2 linked regions of the Homo sapiens genome follow. The protein of the gene in region 2 interacts with the protein of the main gene of each other region in a biochemical or structural test. Each region holds a gene or a part of one and is shown on either strand. Other genes may lie near its edges.

Evidence for each region. Proteins that work in one complex are often made in the same cells at the same time.
Region 1: the proteins of CEP290 (region 2) and IQCB1 interact in far-western blotting, tested with the Homo sapiens proteins (one study listed by IntAct).

Annotation. Positions count from the first base shown.
Region 1 is NC_000003.12:121,824,991-121,828,582, forward strand, and holds part of IQCB1 (IQ calmodulin-binding motif-containing protein 1), read right to left. Parts: coding exon 3,480-3,592; intron 1,191-3,479; coding exon 1,061-1,190; intron 1-1,060. UniProt on the Homo sapiens protein: Involved in ciliogenesis. The function in an early step in cilia formation depends on its association with CEP290/NPHP6.
Region 2 is NC_000012.12:88,086,527-88,090,118, forward strand, and holds part of CEP290 (centrosomal protein of 290 kDa), read right to left. Parts: intron 2,962-3,592; coding exon 2,506-2,961; intron 1,419-2,505; coding exon 1,254-1,418; intron 1-1,253. UniProt on the Homo sapiens protein: Involved in early and late steps in cilia formation. Its association with CCP110 is required for inhibition of primary cilia formation by CCP110.

The DNA of each region.
Region 1 (3,592 bases), on a different chromosome or scaffold from region 2:
TGCATGGTTCTGACATGCACGAGTTTCAGTTAAGATGGAACTGTGCAAAACAAAGGTTTCTTTTTCTTTTCTTTTTTTTTTTTTTTTCAGATGGAGTTTTGCTCTTGTTGCCCAGGCTGGAGAGCAATGGCACTATCTTGGCTCACTGCAACCTCTGCCTCCTGGGTTCAAGTGATCCTCCTGCCTCAGCCTCCCAAGTAGCTGGGATTATAGGCATGTGCCACCATGCCCGGCTAATTTTGCATTTTTAGTAGAGACAGGGTTTCTCCATGTTGGTCAGGCTGGTCTCAAACTCCCAACCTCAGGTGATCCGCCCGCCTCGGCCTCCCAAACTGCTGGGATTACAGGTGTGAGCCACTGCGCCCAGCCCACAAAAGTTTCTTTTAATGAACATTCACAAAGATAAAACATATGCGGAGGGCCATAAAACAAGTCTGAAAAAATTCCAAAGGATTGAAATGATATAGAGAATGTTATCTGACCAAAACATAATTAAATTAGAAATTGATAACAATAAAGTATCTAGTAGATCTTCAAATATTTGGAAATTAAGCAACACACTTCTAAATCCCTGGGTCAAAAAAAGAGCACATGTATAGCATCTAGCATAATGCAACCAAGAAATACTTGAAAAGACCCCTATGTTTGGGTTGAATATTTTGACTGGAGAAGATATGAGAGATCAAATAGGAAGTTCACCTTTATTCTTCACTACTGGAGCTACTTAGAAAAGCCCTAGCCCTAGAGAACATACTTTCCTCTACTGTTAATTTAAGTAAAAAGTATGTTTAGAAAGATGTTATGGAAATAATTGTCTATGGGTGCTGCCCAACAAGTAAAGTAGCAAGGCAGATCCTTCAAAAAATCAAATGGCAAGCTTCAGTCAGCATTAAAAATTTTTCAAACATAGAGATGATTTTTGGAAGGTTGTAACTTTGAAAATGTTTAAATTCACTACTTTAATTGTACTTTCAGCCAAATATTGCACATTTAAAAAATAACAGAACAGCTTCTTAAGAATTAAACTGATTTAGCTACAAAAGACTAAATAAACACATACCTTAGCTGCATTGATAAAACATGTTTGTAATTGTCTCCCCAAAACTAGAAAATTTTCTGCAGCTGATGGAAGTAATTCATTGTAAAATTCCTCTGCATCTTCTCCTGGCTCCAAGCCCACACAGCAATGGCTGAAATAAGAGCACAAGTTCGTGTTAATTAGAAGTTTATGTTGAATGCTCAAGCTTCTAGAGACACTGTGCCTTATTGAGAATTTTTAGTATGCTTCTTTTGTTACCAAGACAATAAAGAATTTTTGTTGAAAAATTAGTCTAACAACTTTCTAGAAAAGTAAACAGTGGTATGGACCATGCTTGTACTTAGGTCTGGGATTTATGTATCCTAAAAACCTACATATCAGCTCATTCAGCAAATAAAAGACACTTGGCTCACAATAAAGAGAAGCTAAGTTTTCAGTGAATTGGCTATAATCATTCTCAAAGCTATAGGATACCTTGAGAGTTTAATTTATGAAAAGCATTTGTGTTAACTAATACATTTTAGACACCTAATAGCTGAAAAATGCCCAAGTAGGATTTGTTTGCAAGGGATACATAAGGAAACCAAACACTAATTTCATACCAATTTTACCTTCCAATAGATCTACTTTTTGCAAAATACTCATTTGCATATTCCTTATATCAGAAGGACAAACGGCAAAACCTAACTCTAGTAGGAACACTTTACAATATACATTAGAGGAGAGAAAGTCACTTAGAGAAAAAGGTCCTCTTAAAATTGTACATAAAAGTCATTTCCTGTACATAAGTCAGAAGTCCCAATAATAAAAGGTTTTTCTGTAAACTAACATTCAAAAGAGCCTCAAACCCAAGAATGGTCTCTATGTGTGTACTCTAATGAACAAAAACTGCTGTTTGAGTCTTTTCAACAAAATGTATGGACACTAATAAGCAATAACAACTATGTATTGAGCATGTTAAAAATCTAAGTAATCAATGGCAGACTGGATAAAGAAAATGGTATATTTCTTTGGGGTGGTACATATACACCATGGAATACTATGCAGCCATAAAAAAGAACAAGATCATGTCCTTTGCAGCAACATGGATGGAGCTGAAGGCCATTAACCTAAGTGAACTAACACAAGAACAGAAAGCCAAACACTGCATATTCTCACTTATAAGTGAGAACAAACATTGAGTATGCAATTTACCTATAAAACAAACCTCCACATGTACCCCTGAACCTAAAATAAAAGTTAAAAAAAAACCTAAGTGGATAATATTTACATGTATCACTTTTTGTTGTTGTTGTTGTTTATTTGCACCTGGGTTCCTAAAGTTAATGGGCTAATGCTCACATGTATCAGCTTTTCTTTTCTCTTTGGTTCCTAAAGTTAATTACTTAAGAGTATCTTTTTTGATTGAGAAGATTAACAAATGAAATTATGTTTATTTGTGCATTCAGAAACATGGGAATTTCTTAAGTCTTGAATTCCACCCGAGAGCCTGGCTTAATCAATATCATCATAAACTAGCATATCGAATCAAAACAAAAACATAAGGCTTTATTTACTTAAGAAAATCAATCTTGAAAATTAAAGTATGAAAAAGAATATCACATATATTTTTCAACTGTTCTTTGTAACTGTGTGCTTTAAATTTGGCCTTTACCAAGTAACACAGTAGGATTAAGCAGCTTAGAAATCTAGCATCCAAGACAAACCCTTTCAGTGGGAATAGCTTATTAAATTCAAATGGCTTATTTAGGAAAAACAAAAAAAGAAGGCTAGGATCCAGTTAGTAAATACACACTTTCACTTATTAATCAGGAAGTAGCTTAGGCACTAAGAACATCTGGTTTATTTTACTACCTCCTTTAAAAAATGTTTATTTCTCTTCTATTAATTTCTAGCATGGCAGTAGATCAGTAAATTCTACTTCTAAATTTTATTGACAGTATTTGGGTTGCTTAATGAAATACACAGTTGATAGCTACATTGATATAGTGAAATAAAATGTTTCTTTATCAGTTCTCCTATAGTACTTGCTTGCATACTTTCATTTTAGCACTGATTTCATTCTGCTTTGTATCATATACTTACATGACTGTCACCCAATCTCTATTTTAAGTTTCTCAGGTACAGAGCCAGTGCCTTAATTTCTTCACTTCTTTAAAAATTCCTTAATCAATAAAAAGTATATTAGGCACTTGGAATTCAGTGGTGAGAAAAAAAATGATCACCATCTTCATTAAGCTTGTGGAGGAAAATTTTAGACAGTCAAATAATCTGAAGTAAAATTATGAATAATAACATATAATATGAAGGAAAAGTACAACCAAAACCTACAACAGGAGGTTGCCAATGCTTGTTAGGCAGATAAATAAAAAGCAAATGTTGAAAATCAGAATCAACTACTACATCCCTCAAGAACAGCTGACTTACTGCTTTATTTTACCTTAATATCTGTGTAAGCTGGGAAATTGTAGTCCAACCACCCTGGATTCGAGAATAATCTTGACTGAGGACCAAGAGGCAATATTGAATGAGATCATAACAATATATATCTTG
Region 2 (3,592 bases):
CATACACGAAGACATCAGGCACATAACAGGCATTTTATATATATTTTCTTATCTAATCCTCACAACACATTGAAGAAACTGTAATTATTTTCCTTTTATGGAAAAAAATACAAACTCAGAGAGGTGAAGTAACTTGTGTAAGATCACAAAGGCAGATGTGAAGTAAGGATTTCAGTCTATCCATCCATCCATCCATCCATCCATCCATCCGTTCAGCTATACGAAAGATATTTGATGACATATATTATGTGCCAAGCATCATTCTAGGAAATACAAACATGGCAGTAAACAAAACCAAGTCCGTGTCACCACGGAACTTGCATTCTGGCGAAGGAAAGACAGTCAATAATAAACCAGTAAGTATGTAATACGTCAGAAGGTTACAAGCACTTTGGAGAAAAATTAAGTTAATTAATCTCTATTTAGGAATCTGGATAGTAGGATTTACTGTTGTATATTAGGTGGCTGGTGAAGGATACACTGATAAGGTAAGACATTTGAGCTAAGACCTGCAGGCACTGACAGTGTAAATACCAAAGGTATCTAGGGTAAGAACAATTTAAGCAGGGGGAACAATCTCTGAGACAGTCATATGTTTGACGAATTTCATCTGTCTCTGAAGTATATACTTTATTCTATAAGAAGCTGACTTCTTACTCTATCAGTGAGAGCCAGTAGAAACGTGGAACTGTGAAAAGTCAAATAACCAATATCAAAATAAAAATTAACTTACCAAATGAGGTTGCTTATGTATTGCCGTTTTTAAGATTAAGACTACTGTTATAAAAGCTAAATAAATATGAATTTTTAGAATAGTTTAGAAAATAAAAAACAAATTATTATATAATCAATTAGTAATGGAAGGTGCACTTAATTAGAAGGATAACATAGTCATTTGTGCAATATTCTTGTTTAAAATCTTAGGGGCTCACGCCTGTAATCCCAGCACTTTGGGAGGCCGAGGCGGGCGGATCATGAGGTCAGGAGATCAAGACCATCCTGGCTAATATGGTGAAACCCCGTCTCTACTAAAAATACAAAAAATTAGCCAGGCACGGTGGCGGGTGCCTGTAGTCCCAGCTACTTGGGAGGCTGAGGCAGGAGAATGGCATGAACCCGGGAGGCAGAGCTTGCAGTGAGCCGAGATCACGCCACTGCACTCCAGTCTGGGCGACAGAGTGAGACTCCATCTCAAAAAAAAAAAAAAAAAAAAAAAACTTAGGGAAAAAAATGAAATAAATATAAAATAAAACCTTGTTCTGTTGCACAATTTCTTCTTCAAGACTGCTGATTGTACGTTCATATTCAGAAATTATGTTATTCAAATATTTTATTTCTTCTTTATCCTTGACTAATTCCCGATTTAGTTTAAGTTCTTGAAGACGAAGTTCTTCTATTTTCATATGCCAGTTGATTACCTAAGATTTACAATTTATATACACAAATATAAATGCTATATTAACAAATAACATTCCTCCATTGATGATAATGATTTTAATTGAAAGTAATGGCCATTCTAAAATAAAATAAGACACAATGTTATCTTTTGTCAAACTACATGACAAAATCTTATTTAGGATTTCCATAGACTTTTCTACAAATATGTGGGATTTTACAATAAAAATCTTCAAATTATGTTGGAATGGACATCACTAATATTCACTTTCATTTGTTATACGTTTATTGAACACTGACTATAAGCAGGTCATTGGAACTTTGGTATTACTTTCAAAAACAGAAATCCTAAATGTTTCTAGCCTAGAGAACAGGATGTAGTTGCAAGATAATTATTTTTCATTTAATTCTTTCTAAATGAAGATTAAACCATATTAAAAGTAAATGTGGGCCCACTACTTGTAGATCAAAGATAATTATGAACAGTAGAAATCAACTGATAACTACTACAATGTTTAAATATAATAATTAGTGTTTAATTAATATAAATTTTCCTATAGTAATTAAAATTCTTTGCTATTATACAATCTGAACATTCCCACTAAAATCTTTGGTTAGAAAAGCCTAATTTTATTTTTACGTATAATAGACATTCAAATAGCCAACACTGCTAAGTTATAAAATCTAAATTAATGAATCATAATTGGAATTTGTATCTTAAGCATTTTTCATATAGGCATATATTAAGAAATTATCATGTAACTCTTTTGAAGATAATGAATTTAAAATTGGCTGGGCACAGTGGCTCATGCCTGTAATCTCAGCACTTTTGAGAGACCAAAGCAGGAGGATTACTTGAAGCCAGGAGTTCAAGGCCAGCCTGGGTGACAAAGTGAGACCTTGTCTCTACAAAAAAATTTAAAAATTTTAAAAAATTAGGTAGGTATGGTGGTGTGCACCTGTACTGCCAGCTACAACTACTCAGGAGGCTGAGGCTAGAGAGTCCCTTGAGCCCAGGAGTTCCAGCTATGTTTGCACCACTGAACTCCAGCCTGGGAAACAGATCAAGATACTGTCTCTTAAAAAAAAAAATCAAGTTTAAATGTTTACCTTTTGGGCTCCTTTGGTATCCTTTAAAGTGCTTATTAACTCTTCCAGGCCCTTTAATTTTAATTCCATCTCCAATGTTTTGTTCTCCATATTTCTATGTTCTTGTTGAGAATTTTTCATTTCTTGCATTATCTTAAGTTTGTCATTTTGTAGTTGAATCATTGTTTTGGAGAACTTTTCCTGTTGTGCCAAGGGTAAAGCTCCACTAAACTGTCGTCGTAGAGACTGAATTGTTTGGCGCAGATGTTTTGCTCTGTTTCTTCCCTCCAAACGAGCATAATAGAGAGCCTGTTCTTTTTCATCAAGTTTCTGCTCTAAGCGCAAGTTGTAGGCCTCCATCTTCTGCAGTTTAGATGTAATTGACTCCAACTTACCAAGAGCAGTAGCCTCACTCAGTTGAAGAGAGACATTATGTTGGTGCAACTTGGCAATGAGCGACTTTTCATCAGACTGTGCCTGATATTAAAAAAAATATATATTTGTAGTAAGTTTCAAATTTTTCCAGTGAAAGTTATCACAGATTTAAAATTCACAATTTACTAAGCAAAGTTTTAACACAGTGGCACATGAGATCTACAAAAATGTAACTTTGCTTTAATACAAATAATTACCAAAGAACTGTAAAAGAAAAAACCTAGAATCAAACAAACTTAAAATCCAAATGTAACTGAATAACAGTGGGTATGTTACTGGTGTTTTTTTTTTTTTTTTTTGAGACAGAGTTTCACTCTGTCACCCAAGCTGGAGTGCAATGGCGTGATTTTGGCTCACTGCAACCTCCACCTCCCGGGTTCAAGCAATTCTCCTGCCTCAGCCTCCTGGGTAGCTGGGATTACAGGCACATGCCACCACGCCTGGCTAACTTTTGTATTTTTAGTAGGGACGGGGTTTCACCATATTGGTCAGGCTGGTCTCGAACTCCTGACCTCGTGATCCGCCTGCCTCGGCCTCCCAGAGTGCTGGGATTACAGGCGTGAGCCACCATGCCTGACTGTTACAGTTTTTTTTTAACCTCCATTGCAAGTAACATAATACTGATCAGGACAATGTGTATGTTTTTATAATTCCCAACATATATAACGTAAGA